6 separate regions of the Homo sapiens genome follow, and all the other regions are linked to region 4. Evidence: fine-mapped expression QTL. A gene starts in region 4. Each other region holds a variant in brackets. All regions are shown on one strand. Distances are from middle to middle. Region 1 overlaps USP10 (ubiquitin specific peptidase 10). Region 2 overlaps CRISPLD2 (cysteine rich secretory protein LCCL domain containing 2). Region 3 overlaps USP10 (ubiquitin specific peptidase 10). Region 4 holds the start of USP10 (ubiquitin specific peptidase 10). Region 5 overlaps USP10 (ubiquitin specific peptidase 10). Region 6 has its middle 15 kb from the start of CRISPLD2.

Evidence for each region.
Region 1: its variant is fine-mapped to the expression of USP10 in whole blood (TOPMed, PIP above 0.99).
Region 2: its variant is fine-mapped to the expression of USP10 in whole blood (TOPMed, PIP 0.90).
Region 3: its variant is fine-mapped to the expression of USP10 in whole blood (TOPMed, PIP above 0.99).
Region 5: its variant is fine-mapped to the expression of USP10 in whole blood (TOPMed, PIP 0.93).
Region 6: its variant is fine-mapped to the expression of USP10 in whole blood (INTERVAL, PIP above 0.99).

The regions. Positions count from the first base shown.
Region 1 is chr16:84,760,841-84,766,074 of GRCh38, forward strand. It overlaps USP10 (ubiquitin specific peptidase 10), which reads left to right. Exons shown (of 14, transcript NM_005153.3): 9 at 2,149-2,248; 10 at 3,246-3,423. Among named protein-coding and RNA genes, the nearest start is that of CRISPLD2, 57 kb to the right of the region's middle. RefSeq lists a silencer at 83-377. The variant T/A (reference allele first, on the strand shown) is at 3,191.
Region 2 is chr16:84,907,633-84,911,632 of GRCh38, forward strand. It overlaps CRISPLD2 (cysteine rich secretory protein LCCL domain containing 2), which reads left to right. Exons shown (of 15, transcript NM_031476.4): 15 at 1-1,876. Among named protein-coding and RNA genes, the nearest start is that of LINC02176, 18 kb to the right of the region's middle. RefSeq lists a silencer at 2,523-2,638. The variant G/A (reference allele first, on the strand shown) is at 2,221.
Region 3 is chr16:84,766,555-84,770,996 of GRCh38, forward strand. USP10 (ubiquitin specific peptidase 10) reads left to right here. Exons shown (of 14, transcript NM_005153.3): 11 at 1,639-1,804. Among named protein-coding and RNA genes, the nearest start is that of CRISPLD2, 51 kb to the right of the region's middle. The variant A/G (reference allele first, on the strand shown) is at 2,012.
Region 4 is chr16:84,698,405-84,702,404 of GRCh38, forward strand. It overlaps USP10 (ubiquitin specific peptidase 10), which reads left to right and starts at 1,596. Exons shown (of 14, transcript NM_005153.3): 1 at 1,596-1,707. The coding sequence starts at 1,687. RefSeq lists silencers at 1,068-1,587, 1,678-1,897, 1,908-2,017, 2,058-2,167.
Region 5 is chr16:84,744,514-84,749,747 of GRCh38, forward strand. It overlaps USP10 (ubiquitin specific peptidase 10), which reads left to right. Exons shown (of 14, transcript NM_005153.3): 4 at 120-1,160. Among named protein-coding and RNA genes, the nearest start is that of USP10, 47 kb to the left of the region's middle. The variant A/G (reference allele first, on the strand shown) is at 2,647.
Region 6 is chr16:84,802,507-84,807,740 of GRCh38, forward strand. No RefSeq gene overlaps it. Among named protein-coding and RNA genes, the nearest start is that of CRISPLD2, 15 kb to the right of the region's middle. RefSeq lists enhancers at 1,842-2,342, 3,510-4,088, 4,089-4,665 and a silencer at 4,050-4,249. The variant G/A (reference allele first, on the strand shown) is at 2,649.

The DNA of each region.
Region 1 (5,234 bases), 63 kb after region 4:
GGAGCATTTCTTTCCTCCCAGATTGAGTTTGTGATGAATCAGTACAAGCAGTTGAAATGATGCTTAGGGAAATGTATTCAGAGAGAAAAATAGTTGAGAAAATGCCATTTAAGTCAAGTTTACTTGAAGCTTCATTGCTTTGAAGAAGAGTGAATGTCGAGGGCATCGTTGCAGGATACCACCAGGGGTAGCATAGGGTCTTAAGCTTTTTAAATGCTTATAATGCAGCTTTTGGTATTGGCTTGGAATTTGCACTTCCCAAGTAATGGGAACATGGTGTTAGGGATGCAGAAATGGAATGAAGTGCGCCCTCTGCCCTCAGTGAGGGAATGAGTTAATGAATAGTCAACAAGAGAAGCACAAAGATACAGAGATGCCTTAGAACCCAGAGGGGCCCACCTAGCACAGGTGGAGGCAAAATAAAGTGGGTGCTCAGGAACCCCTCTTGGATCGTGCACAGAGATAATGCTATGAACAAAAGCATCTTCTAAAGGTTACATTAATAGGGGATGTGTTGGGCTCCCCAAGACCACCCTGAGGTTGGGTGATTCACTGGAAGAACTCAGAAAATGCAGAAGCTGGTATACCCGTGGCTATGGTTGCTGACAGCAAAAGCATGCGGAGCAGAGTCAGGAAGGGAAAGGACAGGTGAGGCAGGGCCTAAAGGAAACTTCCAGACTCCTCTCCCAGTGGGGCCACAAGGCTACGCGTAACTACTCCAGCACCAGACTGTGACCACACGTGAAATGCTGCCAACCAGGGAAGGTCATTACAGACTCCGTGTCCAGAGTTTTTACTGAGGGCTGGTCCCATAGGTACCATCTGCCTGGCTTGAACCAAAAGTCCAAACTCCCAAAACAAAAGCAAAGTGTTCAGCAGAAAGCACATTGCTTGCGCAAACGGTTTAGGCAGAATCCCGTATCAGTTATTGGACCGATGGGAACCTTTCTGAAATCCAAATTCCCAGACACCAGCCAAGGGGCAACCTTGCAAGCAGGCCTTTCCAAGGAGAGCCACCCAGGCCTGCTATGAAAAGTCTTCAGCACACTTTGGCTGTGCCAGTTTTTGCCCTTTTCTGCACACGTGCAGAGCATGCACTCACGTGAACAGCTGCTGTCCACGTCTACTATCTGGAGAGGGCAAGTAAACTTTGCAGTTTACCTAGATGCTTCAAACAGAACAATTTGCAGGGCCTTGGAATAGGCAGTTGTGCTGTGAAGAATGAAATATGAACTGATGATAAGTAACAGAATCAAACACTCGTGATGTGGGATTATTAAACTCTTGGGTGACTCGTCTGTGAATGATTTTGCTGATGTATGTGTAACACAGCTAACGCTCTAAATCAGTGGAGTTTTTCCACATGTAGTTTGAGTTCTTTCCCATGTAGTTGTCCATCATCAAAGACAGACAGAAGCAGACATAGGGCTGCTTAGCTCATTGCTCGAGTGGTGACCCTTGCAGTTGAACAGTGAACTGGCCCTAGACATCTAGTTCTTCGTCTTCTATTTTGTTTACCCAAGACAGAAACTTTTTTTTAAATAACTTTTTTGTGATAAAGGTAATGTGGCCAGGTGTGGTGGCTCATGCCTGTAATCCCAGCACTTTGGGAAGCCAAGGCAGGCAGGTCACCTGAGGTCAGGAGTTTGAGACCAGCCTGGCCGACATGGTGAAACCCCGTCTCTACTAAAAATACAAAGATTAGCCAGGCATGGTGGCACACACCTGGAGTCCCAGCTACTCGGGAGGCTGAGGCAGGAGAATCGCTTGAACCCGGGAGCTGGAGGTTGCACTGAGCTGAGATTGCACCACTGCACTCCAGCCTGGGTGACGGAATGAGACTTTGTCTCAAAAAAAAAAAAAAGTATATTTATTGAAGAAAATTTCAAAAATACAGAAAGTATAAATAATAAAAATCCCCATTAGTCCACCCATTTAGAGATATGTGTTTAGTCAGTTTCTCCTTTTCCTCCTACTCTTGGGATTTCAGCTATGCAAGGGAAACCCATGTCATCATGTCATTGTTTGGAAATACTTTACATCTTCCATTTCAGAGGAGGCATGGTTGGACTTTGCAAGTACTGCATGTCCTGCAGGCCTTTGACAGTGATCAGTTCACAGTAACGTGATTATATTTGACCTTTTCAGGGTCGACAAGAAGATGCTGAGGAATACTTAGGCTTCATTCTAAATGGACTTCATGAGGAAATGTTGAACCTAAAGAAGCTTCTCTCACCAAGTAATGAAAGTAGGTTATGGTCCACTTGCCGCAGAGTTGTGCAAGAGTTCGCTGTAAACAGGTGTTGCATACTCATATGTTATGTTGCTTCCCTGCCCCTCAGTCGTTTTCCTTTCAAATAGCATTTATTCCCTACGATAACTTACACCATCGAGAAGGTTATATTTAGGTAAATTACAGTTTATCCCGAACCTCTGCCATTTTCCTTTAACTTTTAATTAGGAAAATGATCAAGCCTATAAAAAAGCTGAAAGAATCGTTTGATGAATACCTTTATAATTGCCGAGTGTACAGTTTTAAACATATTTTCTGATGCTATACACACACTGTGTATATATATATATGTCTTATCTGTCCATCCATATATACATACATACGCATACATTTTCCCTGAATGATTCAAAGTTAAGTTGCAGCTAACAGTTTAGTTCATCTCAGGTGCTAAAGCATCTCCTGCGTAACCACAGTCCCTTATCTAACTGAGAAAAACAACTGTAATGACACGGTAATACCGACTTTGCAGAGCATCTTCAAATTTCGCCAGTTGTCCCAGGGATGTCATTTCTAGGAGTTTATGTAAACAAGGATCCAGTGGTGGTGCACCTGTTGCGATTGGTTGCCGTGGATCAAGTGGCATTGCAATGGGTTGCAGTGGATCCAGTGGCATTGCGCCTGTTGTGATTGGTTGCCGTGGATCCAGTGACGTTGCACCTGTTGCGATTGGTTGCCGTGGATCCAGTGACGTTGTGCCTGTTGGGATTGGTTGCCATGGATCCAGTGACGTTGCACCTGTTGCGATTGGTTGCCGTGGATCCAGTGACATTGTGCCTGTTGCGATTGGCCGTGGATCCAGTGACGTTGCTCCTGTTGCGATTGGTTGCCGTGGCTCCTAATGTAGACCACACCCTGATTTCATTTTTAAAACTGCAATCGACAGATCTGTGCCTTTTT[T/A]TTTTTTGCTGTTCTTGTCGTAAATAGTAGTGTAAGCAGATGCTCTCCTTTTCAGAACTTACGATTTCCAACGGCCCCAAAAACCACTCGGTCAATGAAGAAGAGCAGGAAGAACAAGGTGAAGGAAGCGAGGATGAATGGGAACAAGTGGGCCCCCGGAACAAGACTTCCGTCACCCGCCAGGCGGATTTTGTTCAGACTCCAATCACCGGCATTTTTGGTGGACACATCAGGTTTGTGCTTTTCTGGAATAACTTAATATTTGCCTTTTCTAGGGTTTTGCCATGTTGGTGAAGGGGGAAGGTGTGAGGCTTGTTTTGAGACTTCTTGGACGTAATGGTTTGCATCTTGCTCCCCTGCCTGCTCTTCTCTTGCACTTCCTGATGCTTCCCTTGTCAGCCCCCGTGGCTTATTCTCTCCCTGCTGGCGCATGTCTGCAGGGGACAGGGAGCTCCTCCCTTCTACTCTGTCAAGTTCAGCTGCTCACTGCTAGGGAGTAAGAGAAAAGCCAGCTAATTGGCCATACGCGGTGGTTCATGCCTGTAATCCCAGGACTTTGGGAGGCCAAGGCGGGTGGATCACCTGAGGTTAGAAGTTCGAGATCAACCTGATCAACATGGTGAAACCCCGTCTCTACTAAAAATACAAAAATCAACCAGGTGTGGTGACAGGCACCTGTAATCCCAGCTATTAGGGAGGCTGAGGCAGGAGAATCGCTTGAACCCAGGAGGCAGAGGTTGCAGTGGCCCAGATAGCGCCATTGCACTCCAGCATGGGTGACAGAGTGAGACTCTGTCTCAAGAAAAAAAAAAGAAAAAGATACAGGAGAATGTCATCATGACTTAGGGGTAGGCAAAGGTTTCATAAGATAGGTCATAAACAATAACCACGAGAGAGAGAGAAAAAAAAATATATATATATATATTAGACTTCATCTGCATTTAAAACTTGCAACATAAAACCACCTCCGGGAGGCAGAGGTTGCAGTGAGCCAAGATTACACCACTGCACTCCAGCCTGGGTGACAGAGCAAGACTGTCTTCAAAAAAAAAAACCAGCTAACCAAACCATGTGTTTTGGTAAGAGAAGACAGTGTATCTGGAGGAATTTTATTTATGTTAATAAATTGTGTATATTTAAAGTATACACAGATGTTATGAAATAGAGATAGTAAAATAGTTGCTACAGTGAAGCAGATAAACATATTCCCCATCACAGTTACCCTTGTGTGTGTGTGTGTGCACATGGCAAGAGCAGCTGCAGTTTTACTCATTTCACAAAAGTCCCAAATACAGTGCACTATGAGTAGCTCTTGTCCGATGTTCCACATCAGATCTCTAGACCTGTTCGCCTGTGTGGCTGCCCTTGGTGTCCTTCGACCGACATCTTCCATTCCCACTCGCCACCCCTAGGAACCACTCTTTTCCCTATCTCTGTAGTTTCGTCTTTTTTTTTTTTTTAATAAAGATTCCATGTATAAGTGAGACCATGCAATATTTTTCTTTCTGTGTCTGACTTCTTTAACTTAGTATAATGTTCCCCAGGTTCATTCCTGTTGTGGCAAATGGCAGGGTCTTTATTACAGCTGAATAGTGTTCCCTTGTCTATATATACACACCACAGTTTCTTTATCCATTGGCCCATCCACAGACAGTTGTTTCCCTGTCTTGGCTGTTGTGAACTGATTGGAAGCAGGTGAGGTAGAAAGTGAAGAGAGTGTGAAGGGAGGTCTTTTTTACACAGACAGACCCGTGACTGGGCTGGAGTCCCTGGGCACCTGGCTGTGTGCCAGTTCCCTTAAGCAGCTTTTTGCTCATTCACAAAGTCCTTCGGAAAGGTTTTTCTTTATTTACCTGAGAGCTTTTCAGTACCACTGTGATGTGGAATTCAGCAAAACTTGTACCATCTCCAAGAAGGTTTACCCATCGAAAGTACTGAAGAGGCCTCATTGGAGCCTAATTTCCTTTCTGAGGCCTTGCGGCATAACCCCCAGGCTGGTATTTCAGTGACACTCTTAGTCTGTTGTTGTCCCAAATGCTGCGTA
Region 2 (4,000 bases), 210 kb after region 4:
AAATGACAATTAAATGTGCAGATTCCCCACGCACCCGATGACCTATTTTTTCAGCCGTGGGAGGAATGGAGTCTTTGGTACATTCCTCACCGAGGTTAGCAGCTCAGTTTGTGGTTATGAAACCGTCTGTGGCCTCATGACAGCGAGAGATGGGAATACACTAGAAGGATCTCTTTTCCTGTTTTCGTGAAACGACTCTTGCCAAACGTTCCCGAGGCGCCAAGGAGTGTAGTACACCCTGGCTGCCATCACTCTATAAAAGTGCTTCATGAGCCCAGACCAAAAGCCCACAGTGAAATGAAGTACCCTTTTGTAAATAGCATTTTTTTGCAGAAGGTGAAAATTCCACTCTCTACCACCGGGCCAGCCAATAGATCACTTTGGTGAATGCTAGTTTCAAATTTGATTCAAAATATTTCTTAGGTGAAAGAACTAGCAGAAAGTCAAAAACTAAGATACTGTAGACTGGACAAGAAATTCTACCTGGGCACCTAGGTGATGCCTTCTTTCTTTGATTGCCTTTCTAATAAATGCAGAATCTGAAGGTAAATAGGTTTAAAACAAAACAAAAACCCACCCCTTTAAGGAGTTGGTAAAAAGCAGTTCAACTCTTAGCTTGACTGAGCTAAAATTCACAGGACTACGTGCTTTGTGCATTGTAGTCTAGTCGTAATTCATAGGTACTGACTCCTCAGCCCCAAATGTCGGAGAGGAAGAATTCGGTCAGCCTGTCAGGTCGTGAGTCCAGTTACCACCAAACATCTGGGAAACTTCTGGGTGCTGGGTGCTCTGCTGCTGGACTTTTGTGGCTGTGTCTGTGTCTGCAAGATAAATTAGATCGCCCTGTGGGGTTTGCAGAATTAGTGAAGGGTCCAGGACGATCCCAGTGGGCTCGCTTCCAAAGCATCCCACTCAAGGGAGACTTGAAACTTCCAGTGTGAGTTGACCCCATCATTTAAAAATAAAGTCCCCGGGTTCCTTAATGCCTCCTTCACTGGGCCTTCCTAGCAGGATAGAAAGTCCTTGCCCAGAGCAGGACCTGGCTGTCTTTTTTTTTTTTTTTTTTTTTTTCCCGAGACCAAGTTTCACTCTGTTGCCCAAGGTAGAGTGCAGTGGCGTGATCTCTGCTCATTGCAACTGCCGCCTCCCGGGTTCAAGCAATTCTCATGCATCAGCCTCCCAAGTACCTGGGACTACAGGCGTGAGCTACCATGCCCGGCTAATTTTTGTATTTTTAGTAGAGATGGGGTTTCATTATGTTGGCCAGGCTGGTCTCGAACTCCTTACCTCAGGTGATCCACCCACCTTGGCCTCCCGAAGTGCTGGGATTACAGGCATGAGCCACTGCGCCCGGCCATGGACCTGGCTGTCTTTATCATCCCCACAAACATTTTGAAACTGGAATATTTGTCTTCAGAAAATGGAAACAAGACTATAAATGATAAGCCCTGTCCCTAGCACCACCTCTCCTGTGTGTGGAATAGAGGCCCCTCGTGCTACCAACACTTACCCTGTGTTTAAAAAGATCTTGTACCAAGCCAACGGCGTTCCTGGCTCTCCTGCCCACAGGATGAACATTTTCGGCTTCCTTAGGAGTTTTGCCCTACCGTATTCCAAAGCGTGTGCTGGTTTCTCATATTGTCTGTAGGCTCACTCAGCCCGCAGTTTATGTGTGTGCTTTTTTCTATGAAAAATGATGTATTTTGCTACTTCCTGTGTACAAAGTTTTATTGTAAATGTTTTTTGTGCTTTGCATGAACAGGGGCCACGTTGTTGCAATTGTTTCAGTAGAACTGGTTTGATTTCTAAAATGTTCCTGTAACATATCTTTTATGAACAAATCTGAACAATTTGTGAAATAAAACATTGAAAACCATCTTTCAGGCTCTGGACTGTTTTGTGTTGGCTGCTTCTGCTAGGATGTCTCATATACACAGAGATGCTGACAGCCAGGGCCTGGTGGAGACCTCCACCCCATCCGCGGGAAGGAGGGAGGAGCTTGCCAAAATGCAATTTCGGGCTCAGCAAGGCTGGGTTGGGGCCAGGGACTGTGAATTTCTCCCAAGATCCTGGTGATGCGAATGCTGCCAGTCCCCAGATCACACTCTGAGTGGTGGTGGGCTCAAGGCCATTCTGTCTAAGCTCCGGCTGCCCTAACAAAATACCATAGACTGGGTGACTTAACCCACAGAGATATCTTCCTCACAGTTCTGGAGGCTG[G/A]AAGTCTAAGATCAGGGTGCCAGCAGCGTTGGTTTCCTCTGCGGCCTCTCTTTGGTTTGCAGGTGGCTGCCCCTGGCCGTGTCCTCACATGGCCTTTCCTCTGGGCATGTACACTCCTGGTGTCTCTCTCTCTCTCTTATAAGGACACCGGTCATATTGGGTCTGGGCCCCACCCTTAGGACCCATTTAACCTGAATTACCTCCTTAAAGGCCCTACCTTGAAATACACAGGCTGGCTCATGCCTGTAATCCCAGCACTTTGGGAAGCTGAGGCAGGAGGATCACTTGAGTCCAAGAGTTCAAGAGCAGTCTGGGCAACATGGGGAAACCTTATCTCTACAAAAAAAATACAAAAATTTGCCGGGCATGGTGGCGCATGCATGTAGTCCCAGCTACTTGGGAGGCTGAGGCAGGAGAATTGCTTGACCCTGGGAGGCAGAGGTTGCAGAGAGCCAAGATGACACCACTGCACTCCAGCCTGAGTGACAGAGCGAGACACACACACACACACACACACACACACACACGAAAGAAATACATTGGGGGTTAGGGATCGTTTTGTGTGGTTACAATAAGGAAATGATCAAAGTACGATTTCACAAATCACACAGTTTATTGCTACACAAAGATGTTTTTTCCTTAGGTTCCCAGTGCTTAAACAGGGAGAGAATGAGACCAAACCTCACAGAGAATACACTCGACAGACGAAGCCCATTAACCCCACAGTGGGTCAGTTCCAGAATGATCAAGGCCTACTTGCTCACTTAGGATGGAAGCAGGCCTCAGTTTGAGGTGCACCTTCTACCAGCCGTTCTTGGAAGCGCTGTAAGGTCCCTAGAAGGCAGTTCCAGCGCTGGCCAGAGGCTTCTGAGAGTAGCTCCAAGGCTGGCGGGGTGACCTGTCACAGCTGGAGCTCCCAGCTTTGGGAGAAGATGCCGAGGGTGCAGCCGGCCACAGCCAGAGCTCCCAAAGGGTCCGTCCCACTGGCAGGTTTGCATGTGTATGGAAGTCCAGTCGTGAGGGTCAGGAGCTCGCAGACGGGGTCCGATAAGGGGTGAGGCCACATTCTCCAGGGAAGAAGGGGCACACCAAGTTCTTAGCGCAGCAAAACGCGTCACCCACGTAGCAACCTGTGGAGGTGTCTGGAATCATTTCAAAGCCCTGTGGGCCGGGCACAGTGGCTCGTGTCTGTAATCTCAGCACTTTGGGAGGCCGAGGTGGGTGAATTGCTTGAGGTCAGGCGTTCGAGACCAGCCTGGCCAATATGGTGAAACCCCATCTCTACTACAAATACAAAAATTAGCCAGGCGTGGTGGTGCACGCCTGTAATCCCAGCTACTTGGGAAGCTGAGGCAGGAGAATGGCTTGAACCCAGGAGGAGGAGGTTGTGGTGAGCCGAGATCGCGCCACTGCACTCCAGCCTGGGCAATACAGTGAGACTTTATCTCAAAAACAAAACAAACAAAGAAAACCCTATGTGTTCAGGGTGGGAAATTTAGTTCGTAACGGTCACCTTCTTCCCAGGCATCAGCCCAAAGCAGCCCCTTTTCACCAAGCGCAGTCACATCTCGCTGAGTGCCTCAATGCACCAAAGCCCCAGAGCAATTTGGGGGCACGGGGCCGGCCTTTCCTCTCCCCGGTGAAGGCGCCTGCCTTCCTCTCAGGCTCATCTCTAGTGCGGTCCTTTTCCATGCGTGATGGGGATAGCTTTCCTCTTTAAGAAATACCAGGCTTTTAAAATGTCCATTTTAAAATGTTGAGTAAGTTAAGATTGTGCAGG
Region 3 (4,442 bases), 68 kb after region 4:
AGCTCAAATGGAGGCATCGGGAACATGGTTTTTGTGCAGAGGCCGGGTATCAGAATTTCAAGGCCACAGAGGGTCAGCATACTCAAAGATCCCAAATTTGTCTAAGAGTAACCAGTGGAAAATACCAGCGTCCATTTGGAGGACTTGCTGGCTCAGATTGAACAGCTCTGTCACAGCTGCTAGCCACATCCTCTGAGGGGTCTCTGTGTTGAAATTGGTTGTTGATGTTTCTTTTTGAAAAACGGTAAAGCAAAGATAGGGAATTCTTACAACGTAGGAACTTCTTTTCAGCCATTGTTAAGCATGATTCTTTATTCACACCAATTGAAAGATTTACTTCTAAAACTCAGCCTCTTCAGATGTTTTTCAGTTTCCCCAGGAAGACTTCCCCGCCTTTCTTCCCCGGTGCCACCTTTGCTAAAACACAGGACCACTGAATCAAGAGGGCTTCTTGATTCTCCACCAGCTCTCATGAGCGGTTTCCCCACTACTGTATCCCTCTCCAGAACCAGGGGAACTGTTGTCACTGAAGTCTTCAAACTGTAAAGGAGCATGGAGATGCGTAATTAAACCCTGGACAGAAAAGCTTTTAGCGAGCTCTTCACCGCATCTGTTCTGGAAAGCCTGAGTACCTGTCCACACCCATTTTATTCCGTTGAGAAACTAGGTCACCGAGACTGCAGAAATAGAAGCCCTTGTTGAACCCCTGGAATGTTTCCTTGCTGAGGCTAAATGAGAGATGGGCCGAACACACAATTTTTACTCAGAAAAACTTAGAAAAAGGAAAAAAAAAATGAAATGAAAAACCAGCTAAGAAAACAAGGTCAAATTGGCGCCCTTCTTGGAAGGGTGGCAGCCTTTTTTCCTGGAATGTTAACTTGTTTTTTATTCTACACACCCTACTCCCCTTCTTCTTTTTGTAAGACATCTTTATAGGAGGAAAATGCCATTAAAAATCCTCTATTTACCTTGGGATTTCCTCTATTTTATTAGAACAGGCTATGATACTTGGAGAAAATGGAAAGCAGCAGCGTTTTGAGGCCATGGCAGGGTGGCTGCCTTTATGAACCGGTGCAGTAAATAACAGTGTGGAGAGGAAGTGAAAGAATTTGGAAAATGAAATATGTTTTCTTCCAGAGCACTGGCGTTGGGAACATTTATCAACTGGTAGATTTAGTTGTTAGAAATACTAAGGAGGTGCTATTCAGCAGAATTATTATTATTTTTTTTAATTTATTTTTTTATTGATAATTCTTGGGTGTTTCTCACAGAGGGGGATTTGGCAGGGTCATGGGACAATAGTGGAGGGAAGGTCAGCAGACAAACAAGTGAACAAAGGTCTCTGGTTTTCCTAGGCAGAGGACCCTGCGGCCTTCCGCAGTGTTTGTGTCCCTGATTACTTGAGATCAGGGATTGGTGATGACTCTTAACGAGCATGCTGCCTTCAAGCATCTGTTTAACAAAGCACATCTTCAGCAGAATTATTTTTAAATTCAGTATATTTTTGGCTTTTCTCTGTGGTCTTTTGAAAGTGATATTGAATAATCTTATTTTCAGTGTTTATTCCCTTGGTTAATCTTAAGGGAAAGTGGCAAGGAGTGGTCTCTTAATTTTTTTGTTTTTGCTTTCAATTCTTAGGTCTGTGGTTTACCAGCAGAGTTCAAAAGAATCTGCCACTTTGCAGCCATTTTTCACGTTGCAGTTGGATATCCAGTCAGACAAGATACGCACAGTCCAGGATGCACTGGAGAGCTTGGTGGCAAGAGAATCTGTCCAAGGTTATACCACAAAAACCAAACAAGAGGTATGTTCACACTTGATTTTGAACCTTTCTACTAAGGTGCTCTGGTTTGGTGGAAAGAACACAAAATTAGGAATGAGGGGAAATGGGTTTGAGTTATGCCTCTTAAATCAGTTGCTTAACCATTTTGTACTGAAAGTTTTTATGGTTTTACAATGAAATGGTTGAAACGTGATCCCAAGGGCCTCTTTTAGCTCTAAATCATATTAC[A/G]CAAGGTAATGATCTCCTTTTGGATTGTTTATCTTGAGCTACATTTAATTTTCTGGCAATCTAATGATGATATCACAACATCAATACTACCTCTGACAGAGGCCAAATAGCTTATTTATGTTCATGATACCGTAGGGTACAACTGTCATTAGATTAGTTAGGATGTCAGAGAGATTCCAGACACATCTGTTTTGCATTTGATTGTAGATCTTCCAGGTCATTGTAAATATAATATAGTCATTGTAAATATAATATAGTCATTGTTCTGATGCTTGTTACTCTTTGATTTGATCTGGAAAAGGTAAGATTCTTGAGTCTTTCAGTCTTCATGAATTTAAGAGTATCACATTATAGCTTGGTGGAGTCCTTGTCAACTCAGTTGGGCGAGACGGATAGCATTCTGCCCTGTGAGAGCTTATTAGTTCCTGGCTGTCCAGATGTGCCAGCTTATAGCTATTTTGTACTCTGCAGCAGAGAGTGTCTTCTCTGTTATATATCTTAGGTTGTGGCAGTGAATTCATAAAAATGCACTGGGGAGATGAATGCAGGCTGATAATTATGGACGGTCCATAGCATTCCTGCAAAGCGATATTTGAATAATGGGCAGTGGATGGCAGCTACAAGGTAAAATAAGGTGCCCCAACGTAGAAGACCTGTCATCACATTGCATGACTGGGATGGATCTATCCTTGGCTTATCTTGTGTGCTCTGAGTCAGAAAGAGCAAAGTAGGACATAGGGACCCTTAGCACCTTCGGGGTGTCCTGCTGTGGACTGGTTCACCCAGGCTCTGGGGGGATCAGTAGAAGTTATGCCTAATCTTCTACCGTATTTGCAGACTTGCATCTCATGGGTGATTTTGTTTAAAAAATAGAAGCAGTAGGAGCCAGAGGCAGAAACTTGGTAGTTGACTTCAGTGAATGAGCTAAGAAGAGTCTGGCGGTGGACCTCGTGGAAGAGAGAGAGGGAAAAAGTGGTATTTGTGTTGGGGAGGTTGGTTGGGTGGTTCAGTTGTGCATTGTGGGTGACTGTCGGCTTGGCTCACTTCTGTGGCAGCTGCAACTCCAGAGATAGCTCCCTGGCCCTGGCTGCTGGTGCACTCTGCTTATGCTGTTTCTTGAGCCAGCTATGGGAGTCTTTGGCCACCCATGCTGTTGGGGAGGTGGTCAGCCTTTCCATGGGCTGCCTAGGGAAGACCCTTTTGTGATGTGTCTGTTTTTCTCTTTTGCTTCTGCTGCAATTACAGTTTGACTTTGCTGGGGTGGGCTGGTAGGGGTGGCGGTGTGGGGGCAGGGGTTGAGGCGCAGGTAGTTGTTAGCCTGTTGTTAGACGGTAGTGAAGAAAGAATGGTTTATCCTAAATAGCAGGTTTGGATGAAGGCTTCCAGAAAGAAGGCGGGCCAGGTGTGGTGGCTCACGCCCTTAGTCCCAGCACTTTGGGAGGCTGAGGCAGGAGGATTGCCTGAGCCCAACAGTTGGAGGCTGCAGTGAGCTATGATCACGCCACTGCACTCCAGCCTGTGCGATAGTGAAACCGTGTCTCTAAAACATAAGAAGAAATAAAAATAAAGGAAAGCTGGCATTTTGGTGGACTCCGGAAGATAAAAAGGATGCTGCCAGCCGTTCTGGGTGCGTGGTTGTGGTGGTGTGTTACCAGATGAGGCCAGGACCACTTTCAACAGCAGATGTTTCAGGAAGATTTGGGACAGCTTGTATGGAAGTATCTATAAGGAGCAAATTACATATTTTCTTGAATGTGTTTTTTTTTAAGTTTTTAAAATGCCACCTTTAACTTTATTATGTTTTAGATCAGAAGTATTTTTCTGTGGGAACATGTGAAGGTTTTGGGGAAAATAGGATTATATGAAATATTTGCTATATAGAAAATGTCTGCCTTTGTTGAGTGATTAGAAATTAAGCCTCAGTTGGCTGGGCGAGGTGGCTCACACCTGTAATCCCAGCACTTTGGGAGGCCAAGGCGGGTGGATCACGAGGTCAGGAGATCGAGACCATCCTGGCTAACACGGTGAAACCCCGTCTCTACTAAAAATACAAAAAGTTAGCCGGGCATGGTGGCAGGCGCCTGTAATCCCAGCTACTCAGGAGGCTGAGGCAGGAGAATGGCGTGAACCTGGGAGGCGGAGCTTGCAGTGAGCCGAGATAGCGCCACTGCAGTCCGGCCTGGGCGACAGAGCGAGACTCCGTCCCCAAAAAAAAAAAAAAAAAATCTCCAGTGGCTGATGCCTGTAATCCCAGCATTTTCGGAGGCTGAGGCAGGCGGATCACAAAGTCAAGAGATCGAGACCATCCTGGCCAACATGTTGAAACCCCATCTCTACTAAAAATACAAAAATTAACTGGGCATGGTGGTGTGCACATGTAGTCCCAGCCTCTCAGGAGGCTGAATCACTTGAACCCTGGAGGTGGAGGTTG
Region 4 (4,000 bases):
CACGAAGATCACCCATATCCAATCCATATTCAAATGTCTCCAATTGTCAACAAATAGTAAAACCAGCTTAAAAGACATATCAGGATCCAAGCAAGATGACACATTGTATTTGGTTATGTTTTCTAGCTCTTCTATTTTGGAACAACCCCTCCCTACCACTTATATTTTTCTTTTCTTTTCTTTCTTTCTTTCTTTCTTTTTTTTTTTTTGAGACAGAGACTCGCTCTGTCACCCAGGCTGGAGTGCAGTGGCACGATCTCGGCTCACCGCAACCTCCGTCTCCGGGGTTCAAGTGATCCTCCCACCTCAGCCTCCTGAGTAGCTGGGACGCCTGGTGTGCCACACTACATCCCACCAATTTTTGTATTTTTAGTAGAGTTGGGGTTTCATCATATTAGCCAGGCTGGTCTCCAACTCCTGACTTCAAGTGATCCGCCCGCCTCGGCCTCCCAATGTGTGGGATTCCGGGTGTGAGCCGCTGCGCCTGGCCCACTTATATTTTTCATGGCATCCCATTTATGAAGAGACCAGGCTCCCTATTTTATGTAACGTGGGAATGGATCTTCCTGTTCATCTCCTCTGCTCAGTGTACGGTCTAGCAAGAGCAGACTCTCTGTAGGTGTTTGTTGAATAAATGAAACCAATAGTAATGGTTATTAATAACAATCCCAGTAGCCAATTTTTATTGACTATTCTCTTGGCCAGTGTGCTCACGTTAATCTAATTTGAACCTCACAGAAATCTTACGCGTTATGACATATTTGTCTTATTCACAGGTGAGGAAACCAAGGCTTAGGGAAGGAAAGTCGCTTGTCTGAAATCACAGCTAGAAAAGGGGCCAAAACCCAAGGGTGGACCCACTGGCTGGAAAACAGTGCAGTTAGGCAGGGGCCCCTGTTTCTTAATAATGAATGAACCAACGACCCCCAAGGCTGGTTTGCCCGTGCACACGCACGCACGTGTGCAACACGTAGCACTTGCTGAGTGTTTGCTACTTGCCAGGCCTCATGTCAAGCACTTTACGCGTGCTTTTATGCCCTACGTTTTGTTTTTGTCTGTTTTGCTTTTTTCCCCTAATGCCTAGCCAAAGGCGTGGCCCAGGCGCCCAGGCAGGACTTGGGGAGTGAATGAAGAGTGAACAAATGAATGAATGCGCGGCAACGGGATCTTCATAAACCAGACCCTCCTCGGGGATCTAATGCGAACACTCCCGAGGCCCGGGCCCAGGTACGCTGAGGGCGGCTCGTGGGCCCCAGGCCGACCTCAGCCCGCGACTCCCGGGCTCCGGGGGCCCAGGTGGCCCCCAGTAGGTGAGGAGCCGGGCCCGCCGGCGCCTTGGCGTTGCCACCTCTACCTGCCTGCCCTCTCCCCTTCCGGATCCACAGCCAGGCCTCGGCGGGCTCCTGGTGTGCAGCCGCCCGGCCGCTTCCGCCCGAGGGTCGCGGGGCTCAGAGTCCGGCAGGCTCCAGGCGGGGCAGGGGATGTCCGCGGCCCGGCAGGCGCACGCCCACCTGTCGGCCGCGCAGGCGCAGCAGCGGGCCGGCCTCCCCGCGCCCCGCGGCGCGCGGCCAGTGCGCAGGCGCGGCGGCCGATGCGAGTGTGTATGTGCGGGCGAGAAGATGGCGGCGGCGGGGGAAGCAGCGTGAGCAGCCGGAGGATCGCGGAGTCCCAATGAAACGGGCAGCCATGGCCCTCCACAGCCCGCAGGTAGCCGCCGGTCTGCGCCTTCGGCCGGAAGGGGCCCGAGCCCCGGGCGGGCGGACGCCGCGGCGGGCGGGCGTCCGCGCCCTGCCCGGAGCGAGCGTGTGGGAGTGGGGGAGGGCGCTGGGACACGCTGCCCGGGCCTAGGCCGGAGCCACCCGCCGCCTCCGCGCCCGCCGCGCCTTCGTCCCCTGAGCCACCCGGACCCCCTAGTCCCGGGGAGGTCGAAGGGCGGGGGCTCCGGGCCCCGCTTGGGGAGGGCGTGGAGGGCGCCGAAGGGGTTAACCTCCCTGGGGCTGGACCGCGGGGCGAGCCCGGGGTGTGGAGTGGGGCCCTCCCCGCCGCGCCGGCCGGGGGAGGCGGCCCGGGGGCTCCGGGAGTCCCCTGGAGCGCAGGGGCCCCAGAGCAGCTCAGGTTGCTGCCTCTGCCTGGAGCGAGCCTCAGAGATTTGGGGGTGCCCTGTTGCCCCTTTGCCCCAAGAGCTTCCTTTCTCAGCTTGATTGATGATGCGGGGGTTGCCGATTTTCTGTTTTTTAGATAGAAGTAGCAGAGTAGCGGCCTTGGGCTGCTGTTGCAAAGAAAACTCGAAATAAGTCGCAAGGACCGTACTTTCACTTGCGTTTGAGTGACATCCCTTGCACGAATCCATCCCAGCCAGGCTGACAACTAACGCACCCTGCCTGAACAGTAGCTAAAGCTTGGGGGCCCTTTACAATAATCCCGTGGTGGAAAGAAAGAGCTCTTTTTGGGAGATGTGCGTGTAGAGTTAAGCTCTTATTCCCCTCTCCCACCCCTTCTCTCACATCTTCTCCCCCCTCCGCCATTATAATTATTCTGGACAAAAATCGGCATGATGTATTATTTGTCAGCCTTGCTTTAGACTGCTAATTTGTTGACATCTGGTCCCTATAAATTGTTGCACACTTTTAAACCATCTCATTGTGTATTTGTATTAAATATGGGGAAATGAAACAAAGTAGCCATTCGGGAAACTGATTGCGAGTAAAATCATAACCCTTCATGAGCAATTGGGTTTTGTTGCCCTTCTGCAGATGAAGTCAATCTGACTACACCTCTTTTGAAACATGATTTTCGGAACTATTGTAATGAATGCGTGTTGTGGAATCTAAAATGCGAAAACTTTTTAAAAAATTAGATCTTACGACAAGCTTCAATTTTGTTAAATTAGCTGTAGTTTAGTTTGCATCAGAATTTCCCCCTTTAACGTTTTGTTCCCTTATTCATTTACTTTTGTAAGTAGTGTAGGTCTTTGCGCCAAAAAAGGGATCAGTAGTTGAATAATTTTTACAAATGTATAGCCCAAAGATTTTAAGAGATTTGGTGTATTTAGCTTTGTTTAGACCTTTCTGTTAAAAAAAAAGATTTGATATTTGCTTTTTTCTCAACTTAAATCCTAATTAACTAGCTTATTAGAATTGGTATGAACAAGTAAAAGGCTCATTATGAATTAATGTGTAATATTCCTTGTGATTTTGACATGAAGAAAGCATCTTTAGGCATAGCTCACTTCCTTTATTTAATAAGCATCAATCACAATTCAAGGTTGATTGAAATGTTAATTAATGGGGATGGATAATATGTAAACTTAATTGTAATTTCGTTTGCATTCATTGTCCCAGTATTTACGTTTTATACAACAGTCTAAAGCGTTATACACATCTTTAGAAAATTGGAGTAGCAAAAGTTGGCGGAACGTAAATGTTAGCAACACTTTGGGTTTATTCTTTTAAAGTATGATTTAAATGCTTTTAAGTTTTAGCATGGAGAAAGTAGCAAAGGAAATAGTTTGATTTCTCATAATTTTCTTCTTCTTTTTTTTTTTTTTTTTGAGTTGGAATTTGGCTCTTGTTGCCCAGGCTGGAGTGCTGTGGTTATTAACCTATAAACTTTTTTATTTATTTTGAGATGGAGTTTCGCTCTTTTTTTTTTTTTTTTTTTTTTTTTTTTGAGACGGGAGTCTTGCTCTGTCGCCCAGGCTGGAGTGCAGTGGCATGATCTCGGCCCACTGCAACCTCTGCCTCCCGGGTTCAAGCGATTCTCCTGCCTCAGCCTCCCAAGTAGCTGGGATTACAGGCGCCCACCACCATGCCTGGCTAATTTTTTGTATTTTTATTAAAGACGGGTTTCACCATGTTGATCAGGCTGGTCTCAAACTCCTGAGCTCAGGTGATCCACCCGCCTCGGCCTCTCAAAGTGCTGGGATTATAGGCGTGAGCCACTACTGCGCCTGGCCGATTTCTCATAATTTTCATTTTAAAAGAATAGTAATGCAAACAAG
Region 5 (5,234 bases), 47 kb after region 4:
TAGATTTGTTGATTAGGAAGAGAACTTAAGGTTTTTATTTTCAAAGAGAAAGTGAGTAATTACTGGTACTTAGAGTTTGTAGAACTGGGTTCTTAACTAATAGTTTTCTTTCTAAACAGGACAAGAATATCAGAGAATTGAGTTTGGTGTCGATGAAGTCATTGAACCCAGTGACACTTTGCCGAGAACCCCCAGCTACAGTATTTCAAGCACACTGAACCCTCAGGCCCCTGAATTTATTCTCGGTTGTACAGCTTCCAAAATAACCCCTGATGGTATCACTAAAGAAGCAAGCTATGGCTCCATCGACTGCCAGTACCCAGGCTCTGCCCTCGCTTTGGATGGAAGTTCTAATGTGGAGGCGGAAGTTTTGGAAAATGATGGTGTCTCAGGTGGTCTTGGACAAAGGGAGCGTAAAAAGAAGAAAAAGCGGCCACCTGGATATTACAGCTATTTGAAAGATGGTGGCGATGATAGTATCTCCACAGAAGCCCTGGTCAATGGCCATGCCAATTCAGCAGTCCCGAACAGTGTCAGTGCAGAGGATGCAGAATTTATGGGTGACATGCCCCCGTCAGTTACGCCCAGGACTTGTAACAGCCCCCAGAACTCCACAGACTCTGTCAGTGACATTGTGCCTGACAGTCCTTTCCCCGGAGCACTCGGCAGTGACACCAGGACTGCAGGGCAGCCAGAGGGGGGCCCCGGGGCTGATTTTGGTCAGTCCTGCTTCCCTGCAGAGGCTGGCAGAGACACCCTGTCAAGGACAGCTGGGGCTCAGCCCTGCGTTGGTACCGATACTACTGAAAACCTTGGAGTTGCTAATGGACAAATACTTGAATCCTCGGGTGAGGGCACAGCTACCAACGGGGTGGAGTTGCACACCACGGAAAGCATAGACTTGGACCCAACCAAACCCGAGAGTGCATCACCTCCTGCTGACGGCACGGGCTCTGCATCAGGCACCCTTCCTGTCAGCCAGCCCAAGTCCTGGGCCAGCCTCTTTCATGATTCTAAGCCCTCTTCCTCCTCGCCGGTGGCCTATGTGGAAACTAAGTATTCCCCTCCCGCCATATCTCCCCTGGTTTCTGAAAAGCAGGTTGAAGTCAAAGAAGGGCTTGTTCCGGTTTCAGAGGATCCTGTAGCCATAAAGATTGCAGGTATAGTTGAAAAGATACAAATCTAGAGTGAAGATGGGAGCAGACCTCATCAACTGGGCTTATAGACTGTGGTGTTACCCATAACAATGGCAGATTACCTGTGTGTTAATAGCAACGTCTGAAGGATGCCTATGTCTTAAATGTTCTCTAAAAGTAAGATAATATAGAAACAAATGGGAGGAGAGGGTTGTCGTAACTTTATGTTAAGTGAAAGATCCATGTCTGTTAGCAGTTCTTTTCTGTTGACAAGTTACATTTCCATTTCTTGCCTTTTGTTCAAGTAATTCTGCTCCACGGTATGAATGTATAATGGACTTTTTCTGTGATATACCTTTGGTATGATAATCCTGATTTGTACTCACTGTGTGCTCCTTTTTTATATTTCTTAAGATACAAGAAATCATTTTGTGAAATAACATGGTTTTTTTTTTTTGGATTGAGTAAATGGATTTTATTCAGAATTTTGATACACCAAGGTCAGCTCTTGAAGAGAAAAAAAATGTTAAGGGTTCAGCCCAAAGTTAATGTTTTATTTTAGAGTGCTAAGGCTCCAAAGTAGAAACAATTCACAATAAAAATAGAAAGCTGCATAATTCACAGATTGTTTTTAAAAAGTTACAGTAGGAAGTCAGAAATGCAGCAGGGTATGAAAGAGGTATGTGTCCTCACATAGCCACGTGTTGCTTAACTAAGATGGATATGTGTTCCGAGATGTGCGTGTTAACATCAGAGAGTACTACACAAATACAGGTGGTAGAGCCTTAGGCTGGTGGTGCAGCCTATTACTCCCGGGCTGCAAACCTGTCCAGCGTGTTACTACTGAATACTGTAGGCAGTTGTAACACAGTGCTAAGTATTTGTGTGCCTGAACACATTTAGACATAGAAAAAATATAGTACAGATATGGTATAAAGGATGAAAAGTGCTTCACCTGTATAGAGCACTCACCGTGAATGGAGCTTGCAAGACTGGAGTGGCTCTGGATGGGTCAGTGATGAGTGCTGAGTGAATGTGAAGGCCCAGGACAGTACTGAGCAAAGCCGAGTTTTATAAACAGTCAACACTTAGGCTGTACTACGTTGATTTACAAATTTTTCCTCAATAAGAAATTAACCTTAACCTACTGTAACTTTTTTACGTTTTATTTTACTTTTAAATTAAAAATTCTAAACTTTTTGACTCTTTCATGAGAACATTTAGCTTAAAACACACACTACAGCTATACAAAAATATTTTCTTCCTTTTTATTCTTACTTTCCTATAAGCTTTTTCATATTAAAAATTGTTTTTAACTTTTTAAACTTAAAAAGTAAGACACAAACATTAGCCTGGGCCTGCACAGGGTCAGGAGCATCAAGACGCCACTAGGCGGCAGGACGTTTCAGTTCCACTAGAATCTTGTGGGACCATCATACGTGCGGCTCATTGTTGACCGAAATGTTACGCCGCGCGTGACTGTACGTACCTAAGAAGCAGAAGCTGTGTC[A/G]TCAGGTTGGATTCCACCAAGCCTGGTGACCAGATCTTCAGATTGTCACCCTAGTAGCCAAGTTAAAATAAGCTGTTTGGTTTAGGCTTTCTGTAATACTTTCTGATGTGACCTTTTGGAACACCTGACACCCTTCATTACCAGGATGTAGCAGCAAGCTGCCAAATGCACACCCTTCGATGGATGGTCAGAATTGTGTAAAAAATAAAACACATTCTTTGGGTGGCAATAGGGTGATAGCAAGCAATGTATATATATTTTTAAGAGTATTTTATTCCTTATACAAAATACATTATCTCAGGTACTCTTGTTGTTCTGAAGTTCTCTTAAATGAGCAAATGATAGGCCAGACGTCGTTATTTTGGGCTTCATATATATTTTTTAAAGCCAGGTGATTTTTTTTTTTTTTTTTTTTTTTTTTGAGATGCAGTCTCACTCTGTTGCTCAGGCTGTAGTGCAGGAGGCACGATCTTGGCTCACTACAACCTCCGCCTCCTGGGTTCAAGTGATTCTCCTGCCTCGGCCTCCCAAGTAGCTGGGATTACAGGCACATGCCACAATGTCTGGCTATCTTTTTTTGTATTTTTAGTAGAAATGGGGTTTCACCATGCTGCCCAGGCTGGCCTCAAACTCCTGACCTCAAGTGATCTGCTCGCTTCAGCCTCCCAAAGTGTTGGGATTCCAGGTGTGGGCCACCGCACTCAGGCCAGGCGATTTCTTGAATACAGCTTTCAGAATGTATTTATTGCAAGGACTGATACTGTAGGTGGATGACAAGGTCAGGAGATCGAGACCATCCTGGCTAACACGGTGAAACCCCGTCTCTACTAAAAAAAACCTAAAAATCAGCCAGGCGTGGTGGCGGGCGCCTGTAGTCCCAGCTACTCAGGAGGCTGAGACAGGAGAATGGCGTGAACCTGGGAGGCGGAGCTTGCAGTGAGCCGAGATGGCGCCAGTGCACTCCAGCCTGGGCGACAGAGCCAGACTCCATCTCAAAAAAAAAAAAAAAAAAAAAAAAGATAGATTGTGTAAGCCTTTATATAGATTACTAAGTTAAAAGTTTATTTTTAACCTATAATGAGAAATGCATGGTGGGGTCCTGTTAAAAATGTGCATTCTAAGTTCGAAGTCATGAGAATTTTATTTTCTTTTCTTTATTTTTGAGAGGGGGTCTCACTCTGTCGCCCAGGCCGGAATGCAGTGGCGCAATCTCGGCTCACTGCAACCTTCTCCTCCTGGGTTCAGGCAATTCTCCTGCCTCAGCCTCCCTAGTAGCTGGGACTACAGGTGCCTGGCACCACGCCAGGCTAATTTTTGTATTTTTAGTAGAGACCGAGTTTCACCATGTTGGCCAGGCTGGTCTTGAGCTCCTGACCTCAAGTGATCCTCCTGCCTCAGCCTCTCAAAGTGCTGAGATTACAGGCGTGAGCCACCGCGCCCAGCTGAGAATATTATAGTTTCGTTTCTAAAATTGCTCCACAAAGGAAAACCTCCCATCTTAGGGAGATTTTCTCTATCTTTATTTAAAATAACCAAGAAAAGCTTCATTTAAAATGTTTTAGAACATTCTACTTAGTCATATGACTTTAAATATAGTTTGATAAATAGTTTGTTATGTTCTGTATATGTTAAAGTCTAATTGAAGTAGCTTTGTCAAACACTGAAAGTAAGGGCCTCTTAATGACTGGTAGTAGAGGAAAGCCTTGCCACACACAGTCCACGTAATTATTTTTGTGTGGACATATTGTAAACCCCTACCAAACAGATTATTTTTTTAATCCTATTTGGTTAGGTCAGTTATGAAGATGTTTTAATTTTCTGAGCAAAAGTGTAGTTTCTTTAAAAATATATAATTCTTTTCAGCCTGTTTGTTGAGGCTTCGATAGACAGAACGTAGTTGTTGACAGTTTCAGGAGTCTCGTGAGATAGTAGAGCAATAGAGTCACATTGAATAACCCTTGGGATCATATAGGGCTTAGGGAGAATGGCATTGTTTGAAATTTTTTTTGTTGTTTTATTCTCCTACTTAGGGATTTACTTTATAAAAGTGGTAAAACATACTCAGTTTGTTACAAGTCAGATCCACTACCACAAATTCCCTTTAGTGGGCACACTTTTAAGTGTAGGCCCACTTATTTTAAGCAGCGTTTAACTGAGTGAAAGTCTAGTTTCATTAAAAGATCTGTTGATGTGGGTTATAATAGAGTTTGACTTGCATTAGTATCTAACTGTTTCTACTGAGACAGTGGTATTTGTGTTATTAACTTTTGGGAAAGAGGGAGTAGGGAATGATTTAGACATTAAATGTATTCCTTTCTGCCAGGCATGATAGTGTGGAGATTGAGGCTTGAGGCTCGATAACTTGAGCCCGGGAGTTCGAGGCCAGCCTGGGCAACATACTGAGACCCCATCTTTAAAAAAAAAAAAAATTATACACACACAAAATGCTTGGAATAATTTGTGTATTTTTTATCTCAAGTTTGTTTCAAATACTCACATTTCTGGACTATTTCCCCTATTGTTAAGTCTGCTTAATAAATGCCAGCTAGTTTTTATGCCATCAGAAGTGAAATTAAGAAGGCAGATGG
Region 6 (5,234 bases), 100 kb after region 4:
GAAATGGTGGGCTAGGATCCAAACCCAGGAGGTGGGCAGCTGGCCACTGGGCCACAGCGCCTCCCCATAGGGTGAGTCCAGAGCCCCCAACCAAAATGGCGGATGGGCTGCAGGAGAAAGGAGGGACTGATGTGGCTTCTACCTGCGTCAAGTGGACCAGGTGTGGGACGAGTTTCAGGGGAGCAGGAAGGGAAGAGAGGAGTCAAGAATCCTCGACTGGCTGGGCGTGGTGGCTCGTGCCTGTAATTCCAGCACTTTGGGAGGCCGAGGTGGGTGGTTCACGAGGTCAGGAGTTCGAGACCAGCCTGACCAACATGGTGAAACCCCATCTCTACTAAAAATACAAAAATGAGCCGGGCGTGGTGGCACTTGCCTGTAGTCCCAGCTACTCAGGAGGCTGGGGCAGGAGAATCGCTTGAATCTGGGAGGCGGAAGTTGCAGTGAGCTGAGATCACGCCACTGCACTCCAGCCTGGGTAACAGGGCGAGACCCTATCTCAAAAAAAAAAAAAAAAAAAAGGAGTCCTCGACCATGCCGTATGCTTCCAGTTACAGAATATTCTTGAACAGGCAAGCAAGTCTACAGCAAAGCAACAGAAAGCAGATCCATGGTTGCTGGGGGAGGTGGGACGCAGATGGGCGTGATGGGAACATTCTGTATCATGGTGGTAGTTGGGCGGGTATAGACATCTGTTCCTCATCCAGCTGTCCACTTAAATGGGTACACGTGCTTGTGTATAAACCCCACCCCCTGTAAGGTTGATGTTAAAAGTGCTTCTGAGGCCTCCTATTGGTGACATTGCCCAGGTCGGTGGACGTCAGGGGATCCTATTTCTTAGAACACAGGGATGTCTTTCCGTCATTTGAATTTCTGGCTAGCCGACCTTTTTCCTCCTCAGCTGGAGCCCCTACCTGCCTCGGGGGACTAGGAAAGCTTAGCAGAACCTCAGCAGGAAAGCAACTTGTTTAGCTTTTAGAGTTCTCAGTGAGACCAGAGCCCTGGGAAGGAATGAAGAGGGGAACGGGGTTGCCCACATCCTTTGCACCCCTTTTGCATCAAGAGTCAGGCCCGTGGTCCTTGGCAAACTCACGCAGGAACCGAAAACCAAATACCGCACGTTCTCACTGATAAGTGGGAGTTAAACGATGAGAAGACATGGACGCATAGAAGGGAACACCACCCACTGGGGCCTGTCGGAGGGTGGAGGGTGGGAGCGGGGAGGGGATCAGGAAGAAGAACTCATGGATACTGGGCTTAATACCTGAGTGACGAAATAGTCTGTACAACAAACCCTCGTGACACACGTTTACCTAAGTAACAAACCTGCACATCCTGCACATGTACCCTGGAAATTAAAAGTTTTTTTTAAAAAAACGATTGTTTTACAAAGTCAGTGAAAAAAGGGCCAGGCGCGGTGGCTCACGCCTGTAATCCCAGCACTTTGGGAGGCCGAAGCAGGCGGATCATGAGGTCAGTAGATCGAGACCATCCTGGCTAACACGGTGAAACCCTGTCTCTACTAAAAATACAAAAAAATTAGCCGGGCATGGTGGCGGGCGCCTGTAGTCCCAGCTACTCCGGAGGCTGAGGCAGGAGAATGGCGTGGACCCAGGAGGCGGAGCTTGCAGTGAGCCAAGATTGCACCACTGCACTCCAGCCTGGGTGACAGAGCGAGACTCCGTCTCAAAACAAAAACAAAAAGAAAAACAAAAACAAAAAAACAACAAAGTCAGTGAGAAATTTAAAAGAAAAAAAAAGGTCAGGCCTATTGAACTTCAAACTTATTATCAGCCAGAGGGGATGGAAAACCCAGTGCCTCATGGAAGGAACACCCCAAACATAAGAAGGTGGAAAATCCTCCCTCCCAGCTCCAGCAAGGTGAGCGGACAGGTGAAAAAGAGCTTCTGCCCCTGGTCGGGACCCTGGAGTCAAGGGAGGAGGCAGATTAAGGAGGAGGCTGAGAGCGAACGTGTTACGAGGCAGCTCCCTCCAGTGCAAGGTGGAGGACAGCCCTCGTGCACAGTGGAGCAGCCCCAGCCTGGGTGACTCCCCAAGCCCTGTAGGCCGATGTGGCCCGGTATGTCCAAGCTTGCTGGAGTGGGTTAACTGGTGGCCCCCAGAATGATATATCCAAGCCCTGATGCCCAGAACCCGTGAATGTGACCTTATTTGGAAAAAGAATCTGGCTGGGCACGGTGGTTCATGCCTGTAATCCCAGCACTTTGAGAGGCCGACACAGGTGAATCATCTGAGGTCAGGAGTTCGAGATCAGCCTGGCCAACATGGTGAAACCCCACCTCTACTAAAAATACAAAAGTTAGCCGGACTTGGTGGTGCACATTTGTAATCCCAGCTACTCGGGAGGCTGAGGCACGAGAATCGCTTGAACCCAGGAGGCGGAGGTTGCAGTGACCCGAGATCACACCACCGCACTCCAACCTGGGTGATGGAGCGAGACCACATCTAAAATAAATAAATAAATAAATAAATAGGCTGGCTGCGATGGCTCACGCCTGTAATCCCAGCCCTTTGGGAGGCCGAAGTGAGTGGACCACAAGGTCAAGAGATTGAGATCATCCTGGCCAACATGGTGAAACCCCGCCTCTACTAAAAATACAAAAATTAGCTGGGCGTGGTGGCGCACGCCC[G/A]TAGTCCCAGCTATTCGGGAGGCTGAGGCAGGAGAATCACTTGAACCTGGGAGGCGGAGGTTGCAGTGAGCCGAGATCAGGCCACCGCACTCCAGCCTGGGCAACAGAGTGAGACTCTGTCTCAAAAAAAAAAAAAAAAAAAGAAAGAAAAAGTATCTTTGCTGTAATCAATAGAAGGTCTTGAGATGAGGCCATCCTGGATGACCATGTGTGCCCTAAGTGCAACCATGAATGTCCGTATAAGAAGAGAAGAAGGCTACGCGAGGACAGAGGCAGCGATGGGAGTGATGCGGCCACAAGCCAAGGAACACCTGGGGCCCCTGGAAGCTGGAAGAGGCAGGAAGGATCTTCCCTCTCTCCACTCTGCAGACGCTTTGATTTCAGACCGCTGGCCTCCGGAACCGGGAGAGAACACATCTCTATTGCTAGCCACCCAGTTTGCAGCAGTTTATTAGGACATCCCCGGGAAATTAATCACGGCTCCTGTCATGTAAAAAGATCGGTGGGTGGGCTCCGTCTTTGCCTCTCTGCAAAACCGTGAAGTCCCTAAACTTCCTTCCCACTCATCTAGGGGGAGAGGAGAGGAAGGAGGGAAAGAGCGAGGGCCCTGAGTGGCTCTGAGTGCACATGGGTGGGCTAGTTGCTGCAGAGACCACTGCAAATTAACAGAGATGATATAGAGAGACTGAGGCTGAGCATGGTGGCTCACACCTGTAAGCAGCACTTTGGGAGGCAGAGGCAGGCGGATCACTTGAGGTCAGGAGTTTGAAACCAGCCTGGCCAACACGGTGAAACCCCATCTCTACTAAAAATACAAAAATTAGCCAGGCATGGTGGTACAAGCCTGTAATCCCAGTACTTCGGGAGTCTGAGGCAGGCAGATCGCTTGACATCAGGGGTTTGAAACCAGTCTGGCCAACATGATAAAACCCCGTCTCTACTAAAAATACAAAAATTAGCCGGGCATGGTGGCACATGCCTGTAATCCCAAATACTGGGGAGGCTGAGGCAGGAGAATCACTTGAGCCCCGAAGGCGGAGGTTGCAGTGAGCTGAGATTGCACCACTGCACTCCAGTCTGGGTGACAGAGTGAGGCTCCGACTCAGAAAAAAAAAAAAAGAAACCAAGAGATGTCCTGTTGTCAAGGTTAAGTACTACCCCACCCCTCAACTGCCCTGTTAGGGAAAATAAGGCAGTTGCATTTTCAGACACGCAAGTGGGACCCGCCGAGATTAAAAATGCAAGAAGCAGCGGTTCACAGGATGCCGAGGATGACTGGACTTCCTGTCCACCCCCTGGGCCTGGCCAGAGCTTCTGCAGGCACTTCAGGCTCCCCTGATGGTGGCGGTGATGCCGTGGGTGCTCGGGGACAGTGGGAATGCAGTGACACCACTCGGGCTAGAGAACCCCCCGGAGGCTCTTGCATTGGTCGTCCTGGGCCATGCACAGCCTGGAACTGGCCGCTATCCAATTTTGCATCTGGGAAGTGTTCATCGATTGCTAGAAAAATAATCAGGTCGAACGCAGGCCATTTCCGGTAAAGAGGCTCTAGGGAAGCACCTTCAGGCCAGATGACTCAGGACTGTGCGGAGTGTGTGTGGTCTGGGAGCCGGCTGCCTGCCGGGCCCGGGTGCTCTGCAGGGAAACAGTTGGCTGCCTGAGGGCTCATTCATGGCTGTTTCCCCTGGAAGGGCGGCGCAGGAGCCCGGTTCTGCAGCCCTGCCGACGCCGTGTCACAGACACAGCTCTTCATGGATGCATCTGGTTTCCCATGGCTGCGGTAACAAGTGACCACAAGGTTGGCGGCTGGAAACAGCTTAAGTATCCCATCTTACGGTTCTGGAGGTCAGAAGTCTGAGATCGGCATCACTGGGCTAAAGTCAAGGTGTGGGCGGGGCTGGTTGCTCCTGGAACCTCCAGGGGAGAATCGTCTCCTTGACTTTTCCAGCTTCTAGAGGCTGCCTGTACTCCTGGGCTCATGGCCCCTTCGTCCATCCTCAGAGTGCATCACTCCAACCTCGGCTTCCATCATCACAGCACCTTCTCTTCTGACGCTGACCCTCTGGCCTCCCTCTTACAAGGGAGGCTTGTGATTCCGTGGGGGCCACAGGAGAATTCAGGCCGCTCTTCCCATGTCACCACCCTTAGCAGAATCACGTCTGCAGAGGCCCCGTTACAATGAATGCTGGGTCCAATCGCGTTTCCCAAAAATCCATGTCCACCTGGGACCTCAGAATGGGACCTTATATGGAACTAGGGTCTCTGCAGATGTAATCACATTAAGATGATGTCACACTCAACTAGGATGGGCCCTAATCTAGTGCCTGATGTCTTCATAAGAAGAGGAAAGTTTGGACACAGATGCACCGGGAAGGTGGCCATGTGAAGAGGAAGTCGGAGATTGGAATGGCCACAGACGGGACATCAGGCATTGCCGGCCACCAGAAGCTGAGACATGTGCAGATGGATCCTCCCTAGGCCCTTCGGGAAGAGCATGGCCCCTTCGACACCTTGATCTTGGACTCCTGGCCTCCAGGACTGTGGGAAAATGCGTTTGCGTTGTTTGAAGCCCCCTGTTTCTGGTAC